Regions from separate parts of the Homo sapiens genome. Here region 1 is linked to region 2. The links come from fine-mapping of genetic effects on gene expression. A gene starts in region 2. The other region holds a variant in brackets. All regions are shown on one strand. Distances are between the middles of the regions. Region 1 overlaps TDRD5 (tudor domain containing 5). Region 2 holds the start of TOR3A (torsin family 3 member A).

Region 1 (5,235 bases), 600 kb after region 2:
AAATGTTCTCATTGTTCAATTCCCACCTATGAGTGAGAACATGTGGTGTTTGGTTTTCTATCCTTGCAATAGTTTGCTCAGAATGATGGTTTCCAGCTTCATCCATGTCCCTACAAAGGACATGAACTCATCCTTTTTTATGGCTGCATAGTATTCCATGGTGTATATGTGCCACATTTTCTTAATCCAGTCTATCATTGATGGACATTTGGGTTGGTTCCAAGTCTTTGCTATTGTGAATAGTGCTGCAATAAACATACATGTGCATGTTTCTTTATAGCAGCAGGATTTATAATCCTTTGGGTATATACCCAGTGATGGGATGACTGGGTCAAATGGTATTTCTAGTTCTAGATCCTTGAGGAATCGCCACACTGTCTTCCACAATGGTTGAACTAGTTTACAGTCCCACCAGCAGTGAAAAAGTGTTCCTATTTCTCCAAATCCTCTCCAGCAGCTGCTGTTTCCTGACTTTTGAATGATCGCCATTCTAACTGGTATGAGATATTATCTCATTGTGGTTTTGATTTGCGTTTCTCTGACGGCCAGTGATGCTGAACATTTTTTCATGTGTCTGTTGGCTGCATAGATGTCTTCTTTTGAGAAGTGTCTATTCATATGCTTTGCCCACTTTTTGATGGGGTTGATTTTTTCTTGTAAATTTATTTAAGTTCTTTGTAGACTCTGGATATTAGCCCTTTGTCAGATGGGTAGATTGCAAAAATTTTCTCCCATTCTGTAGGTTGCCTGTTCACTCTAATGGTAGTCTCTTTTGCTGTGCAGAAGCTCTTTAGTTTAGTTAGATCCCATTTGTCAATTTTGGCTTTTGTTGCCGTTGCTTTGGTGTTTTAGACATGAAGTCCTTGCCCATGCCTATGCCCTGAATGGTATTGCCTAGGTTTTCTTCTAGGGTTTTTATGGTTTTAGGTCAAATATTTAAGTCTTTAATCCATCTTGAATTAGTTTTTGTATAAGGTGTAAGGAAGGGATCCAGTTTCAGCTTTCTACATATGGCTAGCCAGTTTTCCCAGCACCATTTATTAAATAGGGAATCCTTTCCCCATTTCTTGTTTGTGTCAGGTTTGTCTAAGATCAGATGGTTATAGATGTGTGGTATTATTTCTGAGGCCTCTGTTCTGTTCCATTGGTCTATATCTCTGTTTTGGTACCAGTACCACGCTGTTTTGGTTATTGTAGCCTTGGTATAGTTTGAAGTCAGGTAGCGTGAAGCCTCCAGCTTTGTTCTTTTGGCTTAGGATTGTCTTGGCAATGCGGGCTCTGTTTTGGTTCCATATGAACTTTAAAGTAGTGTTTTCCAATTCTGTGAAGAAGGTCATTGGTAGTTTGATGGGGATGGCATTGACTCTATAAATTACCTTGGGCAGTATGGCCGTTTTCATGATATTGATTCTTCCTATCCATGAGCATGGATTGTTCTTCCATTTGCTTGTATCTTCTTTTATTTTGTTGAGCAGTGGTTTGTAGTTCTCCTTGAAGAGGTCCTTCACATCCCTTGTAAATTGGATTCCTAGGTATTTTATTCTCTCTGAAGCAATTGTGAATGGGAGTTCACTCATGATTTGGCTCTCTGTTTGTCTGTTATTGGTGTATAGTAATGCTTGTGATTTTTGCACATTGATTTTGTATCCTGAGACTTTGCTGAAGTTGCTTATCAACTTAAGGAGATTTTGAGCTAAGATGATGGGGTTTTCTAAATATCCAATCTTGTCATCTGCAAACAGGGACAATTTGACTTCCTCTTTTCCTAACTGAATACCCTTTCTTTCTTTCTCCTGCCTGATTGCCCTGGCCAGAACTTCCAATACTATGTTGAATAGGAGTGGTGAGAGAGGGCATCCCTGTCTTGTGGCAGTTTTCAAAGGGAATGCTTCCAGTTTTTGCCCATTCAGTATGATATTGGCTGTGGGTTTATCATAAATAGCTCTTATTATTTTGAGATACATCCCATCAATACCTAATTTATTGAGAGTTTTTAGCATGAAGGGCTGTTGAATTTTGTCAAAGGCCTTTTCTGCATCTATTGAGATAATCACTTGGTTTTTGTCTTTGGTTCTGTGTATATGAGGAATTACGTTTATTGATTTGCATATGTTGAACCAGCCTTGCATTCCAGGGATGAAGCCCACTTGATCATGGTGGATAAGCTTTTTGATGTGCTGCTGGATTTGGTTTGCCAGTATTTTATTGAGGATTTTGCATCCATGTTCATCAGGGATATTGGTCTAAAATTCTCTTTTTTTGTTGTGTCTCTGCCAGGCTTTGGTATCAGGATGATGCTGGCTTCATAAAATGAGTTGGGGAGGATTCCCTCTTTTTCTATTGATTGAAATAGTTTCAGAAGGAATGGTACCAGCTCCTCTTTGTACCTCTGGTAGAATTCGGCTGTGAATCTGACTGGTCCTGGACTTTTTTTGGTTGGTAGGCTATTAATTATTGCCTCAGTTTCAGAGCCTGTTATTGGTCTATACAGGGATTCAACTTCTTCCTGGCTTAGTCTTGGGAGGGTGTATGTGTCCAGGAATTTATCCATTTCTTCTAGATTTTCTAGTTTATTTGCACAGAGGTATTTACAGTATTCTCTGATGGTAGTTTGTATTTCTGTGGGATCAGTGGTGATAGCCCCTTTATCATTTTTTATTGCATCTATTTGATTCTTCTCTCTTTTGTTCTTTATTAGTCTTGCTAGTGTTCTATCTCCTTTGTTAATCTTTTCAAAAAACCAGCTCCTGGATTCATTGATTTTTTGAAGGGTTTTTTGTGTCTCTATCTCCTTCAGTT[C/T]TGCTCTGATCTTAGTTACTTCCTGTCTCCTGCTAGCTTTTGAATGTGTTTGCTCTTGCTTCTCTAGTTCTTTTAATTGTGATGTTAGGGTGTCAATTTTAGATCTTTCCTGGTTTCTCTTGTGGGCATTTAGTGCTATAAATTTCCCTCTACACACTGCTTTAAATGTGTCCCAGAGATTCTGGTATGTTGTGTCTTTGTTCTCATTGGTTTCAAAGAACATCTTTATTTCTGCCTTCATTTTGTTATGTACCCAGTAGTCATTCAGGAGCAAGTTGTTCAGTTTCCATGTAGTTGAGCGGTTTTGAGTGAGTTTCTTAATCCTGAGTTCTAATTTGATTGCACTGTGGTCTGAGGCACAGTTTGTTATAATTTCTATTCTTTTACCTTTGCTGAGGAGTGCTTTACTTCCAACTGTGTGATCAATTTTGGAATAAGTGTGATGTGGTGCTGAGAAGAACATACATTCTGTTGATTTGGAGTGGAGAGTTCTGTAGATGTCTATTAGGTCTGCTTGTTGCAGAGCTGAGTTCAATTCCTGGATATCCTTGTTAACTTTCTGTCTCATTGATCTGTCTAATGTTGACAGTGGGGTGTTAAAGTCTCCCATTATTATTGTGTGGGAGTCTAAGTCTCTTTGTAGGTCTCTAAGGACTTGCTTTATGAATCTGGGTGCTCCTGTATTGGGTGCATATATATTTAGGATAGTTAGCTCTTCTTGTTGAATTGATCCCTTTACCATTATGTAATGGCCTTCTTTGTCTCTTTTGATCTTTGTTGGTTTAAAGTCTGTTTTATCAGAGACTAGGATTGCAACCCCTGCTTTTTTTTTTTTTTCCATTTGCTTGGTAGTTCTTCCTCCATCCCTTTATTTTGAGCCTATGTGTGTCTCTGCACATGAGATGGGTCTCATGAATACAGCACACTGATGAGTCTTTATTCTTTATCCAATTTGCTAGTCTGTGTCTTTTAATTGGAGCATTTAGCCCATTTACATTTAAGGTTAATATTGTTATGTGTGAATTTGATCCTGTCATTATGATGTTAGCTGGTTATTTTGCCCGTTAGTTGATGCAGTTTCTTCCTAGCATTGATGGTCTTTACAATTTGGCACGTTTTTGCAGTGGCTGGTACCAGTTGTTCCTTTCCATGTTTAGTGCTTCCTTCAGGAGCTGTTGTAAAGCAGGCCTGGTGGTGACAAAATCTCTCAGCATTTGCTTGTCTGTAAAGGATTTTATTTCTCCTTCACTTATGAAGCTTAGTTTGGCTGGATATGAAATTCTGGGTTGAAAATTCTTTTCTTTAAGAATGTTGAATATTATCCCCCACTCTCTTCTGGTTTGTAGAGTTTGTGCAGAGAGATACGCTGTTAGTCTGATGGCCTTCCCTTTGTGGGTAACCTGACCTTTCTCTCTGGCTGCGTTTAACATTTTTTCCTTAATTTCAACTTTGGTGAATCTGACAATTATGTTTCTTGGAGTTGCTCTTCTCAAGGAGTATCTTTGTGGTGTTCTCTGTGTTTCCTGAATTTGAATGTTGGCCTGCCTTGCTAGGTTGGGGAAGTTCTCCTGGATAATATCCTGCAGAGTGTTTTCCAACTTGGTTCCATTCTCCCCATCACTTTCAGGTACACCAATCAGACGTAGATTTGGTCTTTTCACATAGTCCCATATTTCTTGGAGGCTTTGTTCATTTCTTTTTACTCTTTTTTCTCTAAACTTCTCTTCTTGCTTCATTTCATTCATTTGATCTTCAGTCACTGATACCCTTTCTTCCAGTTGATCGAATCAGCTACTGAAGCTTGTGCATGCATCACGCAGTTCTCATACCATGGTTTTCAGCTCCATCAAGTCTTTAAGGTCTTCTCTATGATGTTTATTCTAGTTAGCCATTCATCTAATCTTTTTTCAAGGTTTTTAGCTTCTTTGCTATGGGTTCGAACATCCTCCTTTAGCTCAGAGAAGTTTGTTATTACCGATCATCTGAAGCCATCTTCTCTCAACTCGTCAAAGTCATTCTCCATCCAGCTTTGTTCCATTGCTGGTGAGGAGCTGCGTTCCTTTGGAGGAGAAGAGGAGCTCTGATTTTTAGAATTTTCAGCTTTTCTGCTCTGGTTTCTCCCCATCTTTGTAGTTTTATCTACCTTTGGTCTTTGATGATGGTGATGTACAGATGGGGTTTTGGTGTGGATGTCCTTTCTGTTTGTTAGTTTTCCTTCTAACAGTCAGGACCCTCAGCTGCAGGTCTGTTGGAGTTTGCTGGAGGTCCACTCCACACCCTGTTTGCCTGGGTATCACCAGCAGAGGCTGCAGAACAGCAAATATTGCAGAACGGCAAATGTTGCTGCCTGATCCTTCCTCTGAAAGCTTCATCTCAGAAGGGCACCTGGCTGTATGAGGTGTCAATTGGCCCCTACTGGGAGGTGACTCCCAGTTA
Region 2 (5,235 bases):
TAAAAGTTCCAAGTACAGATAATTCTTTCCACAACATCTTAAAACTTGGATTGTTTTAATAAACTATTGTTACTATTAATTTTTTCACCATAAATTCACTTATAAACCACCAGTATTAACTAAAGCCATCCTTGCCTCCTGTGTAGACCACCCAGAGCCTCCTCCATGGCTGGGTAGATACAAAAATAAAACTGGCCACGTATTGAGTGTTGATGATGTGCTCATTGAATGAGCTCATTTAATCTTCACAGCAGCCCTATGAGGGGACTATTTTATTATCCCTTTTTATAGGTGAGGAAACAGGCATGGGACGGTTCAGTAACATCCATGGTTGCACAAATAGAAAATGGTAATCACTATATTAGACTGCCATTCAGACTCAAACGACATTTGTTGAGTGAGTTAATTTTTTTTCTTTTCTCTTTTTTCTTTTTTTTTTTTTTTTGAGATGGAGCCCTGCTCTGTCACCCAGGCTGGAGTGCAGTGGTACCATCTTGGCTCACTGCAACCTCTGCCCCCTGGGTTCAAGCCATTCTCCTGCCTCAGCCTCCTGAGTAGCTGGGATTACAGATGCGCACCATCACACTCAGCTAATTTTTGGATTTTTAGTAGAGACTGGGTTTCACCATGTTGGCCAGGCTGGTCTCGAACTCCTGATCTCAGGTGATCCGCCCGCCTCGGCCTTCTAAAGTGCTAGGATTACAGGCGTGAGCCACCACACCCTGCCTAATTTTTTTTGGTTTTCCAATAAGCACTGTGGTGTATGTGCTGTTAACTGTCTCCGGTGGACTCCGCAAGCTCGATGTACACAGTGCTGGGCTGGTGCCATGGCTGCTACTCTATGAAAAGTTTTTGACATCACACTGAATGGCTGAGACACTATAAACATTTTACTTTTCAACTCAACCTCGTGTCCTAGCAAAGGTGCTTTATCTAGTTTCTGTAGCTGTTCGAATGAAAGGCACAAATTTGGTGAGCTGCTGAGAATGGAGCAGACCTGGCACGGTGTGATCTAAGAGACTGGGGTGAACAGATGAATCAAGTTGCCTGTGACATTTGTGAGACACGGTGCTAGTATTCACCTTACTGTCTGGAGGGCCCAACCTCAAAGCCACTAAACATATGACATTAGCCAAGTCCTCTGATCTCTCTAGACAGCAGTTTTCTCCTAAGACAAGACGGCTTTTTGGCTTGGCTGAAGTAAGCCAGGTGATTTTAAACAATGCATTAAGCTCTTCTGAAATCTAACAGCCTTGTTCCATGCTCCTCGCTATGGAGAAGAGAGCGCTGAGGGAAAGAGGCCCTGTAGTCTTTTGCCAATGGTGTCGGATGGGCTGCTCAGTCCCAGCACTTGAAAGTTGCAAACCTAGTCAAGAAAGTGCACACAGTACTTCGGATTTTTATGAGATATAATTACATTGACATGACGCCTCATGATTTACCCATGACTCGGGGGGTTTCCAAACTCCAAACACCTCCAGACTGGAGCCCGTCAATCAGCTTCCTCTTGCTTTTCGTGGACTCCCACTGTGGAAACCTGCTGGTGTTTTGCTGCGGTTTCATTTCCCTCTGCGGAGGAGCCAGGGCAACCTTGGCCAGACAGGCACCTAGCTGTGCCCTTCTTTCCAGGGCCTCTTCTCCACTCAGCTGACTCCCCTGGCCTGCCTAACGCTCCTGACTGAGACGGTTTTCCGGCTTCCTCTAACAGGTTGGCGGGAAGTTGATCTGCAAACGCGAGGCAAAGCAGGAGTGTCCTTATTCGGTAGGCCTCTGATGGGCCACCAGAGCCGTCCGAAAGTCCTAGCGGAGTGATTGACAGTGGCCATTTCAAAGCCTGAGTTCACCTTCTTTGCAACCACAATCACGACCCAGAATAAACTGCTTCCTGGAAGCCGGCTAGTTGCACCTGGCCTGAAGTCAGTCTCGGGACTGCCTCTCAGGACCCCAGACAGGGTTTCGGGTTCCCGCCTGGGTCACGTGTACGGAGGCTGCCAGTGCGCACTCAGCCCGGCCCGCCGGTCGCCACAGCAACACCAATCCCGGGTTCAAGCCCGCCTAGGAAGTGCGGTCCCCGCCTGACCGCCCCGGGCTTAAGGGAGCCTGGCTAGGCCGGCAGCCGGATGGTCCCGCAGCTCGGGGCCGGCCATGCTTCGCGGTCCGTGGCGCCAGCTTTGGCTCTTTTTCCTGCTGCTGCTCCCGGGCGCGCCTGAGCCCCGCGGCGCCTCCAGGCCGTGGGAGGGAACCGACGAGCCGGGCTCGGCCTGGGCCTGGCCGGGCTTCCAGCGCCTGCAGGAGCAGCTCAGGGCGGCGGGTGCCCTCTCCAAGCGGTACTGGACGCTCTTCAGCTGCCAGGTGTGGCCCGACGACTGTGACGAGGACGAGGAGGCAGCCACGGGGCCCCTGGGTAAGACCCCGTCCCCACGGTCCGCCGTTCGCTGCGGAGCAGAGTGCGATCCGGGCGCGGCTGTGGTCGCCTCGCTCCTGTCCGGGGCGACATCTGGGCCCGCAGTCCTGCTCTGCTCAGCCGCCGGTACCGGCTGTGGGCGGGGGCAGCCTCCGCGGAGCAGGGAGCCCCATCACCGCCCTTGCCCCACCCGCGTCCCCTGCGCACCCCCCTGGCGCCCGGCTTCCCGTCCCCCGCCTCCCCTGATCCCTGCGCTTTCCAGATTCTCTCGCACCGCCTGTGCCATCTCCCAGCCCACCCTGGCGTTATTCGAAGGTGTTGCTCTTGACAGCTCTAGGGAACGTCCGCTGTGGACATGCCTGGTGACTGCCGTCTCCCTTGCTGCTTTTGGACGCAGGGCTTGAGGACCGACAGTGGGCCGAGTCGGGGCTGGGAGTTAGAATCTGAGTTCTGGGTGTCCCTCTGTCCCTGACAAGTTGTGTGGCAAGGTTGCCGCATCACTGTAGAGCACCGGATGGTCTCCTCTCGGTCTCACAGCTCCTCCTTTTCCAGGCTGGCGCCTTCCTCTGTTGGGCCAGCGGTACCTGGACCTCCTGACCACGTGGTACTGCAGCTTCAAAGACTGCTGCCCTAGAGGGGATTGCAGAATCTCCAACAACTTTACAGGTTGGACCCCGCATGGCTTCAAGGGGCTAGGGATCTGTGGGGAGGGGAGGCAGTCCAGGGGAAATGGTTAGATGCAAGGGACCTTTCGTCATCCTGCCCAGCCTCCCGACAAGCAGGAACTGCCACAGTCTGACTGAAGTTTTGAGGGAGTACCAAATGCTTGAGTCAGGGAAGCCCCTTTTTAGCCTCTAGCTTAATAGCCCAGGCAAACTGAGCTGTTTGTCAGGCCCAGAGCACCTTGTTTCACTCTAAACAGAAACAGCTACCTCTCAGAGGGGGCTGGAACTATCCAGAGAGAACTGATCAGAAATTCTGGGTTGTGATTAAAAGTGTCCCTTTCTTTTCTTTTTTTTTTTTGAGACGGAGGCTTGCTCTGTCACCCACACTGGAGTGCAGTGGTGCGATCTCAGCTCACTGCACCCTCCGCCTCCTGGGTTCAAGCAATTTTCCTGCCTCAGCCTCCCGAGTAGCTGGGATTACAGGTGCCTGCCACCACGTCCGGCTAATTTCTGTATTTTTAGTAGAGGCGGGGGGGGGGGGGGGGGGCGGGTTTCACCATGTTGGCCAGGCCGGTCTCGAACTCCTGACCTTGTGATTTGCCTGCCTTGGCCTCCAAGAGTGCTGTGATTACAGGCGTGAGCCACTGTGCCATGGCAACCAGTATTTTCTAATTAGTTTGGGTTGCTTGATTTGCATATCGCAGTTGATTTGCATTTTCACTCTCACAAGGTGATCTTTGGCCCCATGTTCTGAAACCTGTTCAGACATTTGCAAAAGCTTCCTCTCTTTTCCCCAGGAGCAATTTCTTGCCCAGAGTTCTCCTGATCCCAGGTCCTTCAATCTCCATAAATGAGGCCCACCCCAGATATTTAGGTCACTTAATTGGCCAAAATGCCAATAACACAGTGTGTTTAGGGACACAGTCTGGCTCAGGACAGAAGATAGGACTACATACAGGTCAGGAAGTCTTAATTTGGATCACTGCTGACTTGGATAAGACCCTAGGTAGCAATTAGCAAGTTACTTTCTGTCCTCAACATGCCTTTTGTTCGACAAGGGCCTGGATATCCAAATTGTTCTGGCCAGCGGATTGGAGACCCCTCCTAGTCGTGCCTCTTCCTTGCTGGCAAACTGAAGAGTCCTTCCCAAGTGTCCGTTTCCTCAGCTGTATTTTATTTTATTTTTTTTACTTATTTATTTTGAGACCAAGTCAGTCTCTGTCACCTAGGCTGGAGCAATCTCGTCTCACTGCAAACTCTGCCTCCCAGGTTCAAGCGATTCTCTTCCCTCAGCCTCCCGAGTGGCTGGGATTATAGGTGCCCACCACCATGCCCAGCTAATTTTTGTATTTTTAGTAGAGAGGGGGTTCACCATGTTGGCTAGGCTGGTCTCGAACTCCTGACCTCGTGATCCGCCCGCCTCAGCCTCCCCAAGTGCTGGGATTACAGGCGGGAACCACCTCGCCCAGCCAGTTTCCTCAGCTTTAAATGGGAATAATAATGCCTGCCTTGCAGAATTGTGAAGACCAAATGTAAAACACTTAGCCCAGTTCTGAATACAGAGAAAAAAGCAGCAAATGTTAATTTTCTTCTATGTCACTACTACTTTTGGAGCAATGTGTGATGCCCTCAATGTTTTATCATAGACCTTGACCTCCCAAGGCTCCAGAATACCTGCTCTGGGCTGGCTTAAGGTGTTCAACCAATTGATCCTGGATTTGGAATGCTCACCCACAGCTGGCCGCACACCCTGCCTGTCTGCACTGTGGCTCCTGGTAGCGCCATCTCCAAATCCTACAACCTCACGTCTGACAGGAGGAAGTTAGACCTAGCAGAAGGCTTTGCACACTGGAGCTGCTCTCACCAAGTGTTGGCTGAATTGAATGAGAATGAATAAAATCAGGCTTCTCCATAAAACAGGGAGCCCTGAAACCAAGGGATGGGAGCAGCCTCAGGACATGGGGGACAGGGTTCCTCCCTAGACAGGTCTGTGCCAACTGTTCTGGGTATCTGCAGGATCTTTAGGAAGGGTGATTCCACTCTCCCTGAGTCCCATCTTGATTTCCCAAACTCTTCAAAAAGTAGTCCTTGAGGCTGGGCGCAATGGCTCACGCCTGTAATCCCAGCACTTTGGGAGGCCGAGGTGGGCGGATCTCGAGGTCAGGA

What was found. PIP is the estimated chance that this variant, and not a neighbour inherited with it, causes the effect.
Region 1: its variant is fine-mapped to the expression of TOR3A in aorta (GTEx, PIP 0.94).

Annotation. Positions count from the first base shown.
Region 1 is chr1:179,684,250-179,689,484 of GRCh38, forward strand. The region is part of intron 17 of TDRD5 (tudor domain containing 5); the gene reads left to right. Among named protein-coding and RNA genes, the nearest start is that of FAM163A, 56 kb to the right of the region's middle. The variant C/T (reference allele first, on the strand shown) is at 2,800.
Region 2 is chr1:179,079,984-179,085,218 of GRCh38, forward strand. It overlaps TOR3A (torsin family 3 member A), which reads left to right and starts at 2,087. Exons shown (of 6, transcript NM_022371.4): 1 at 2,087-2,404; 2 at 2,957-3,070. The coding sequence starts at 2,146. RefSeq lists silencers at 2,062-2,351, 2,492-2,661, 3,652-3,711.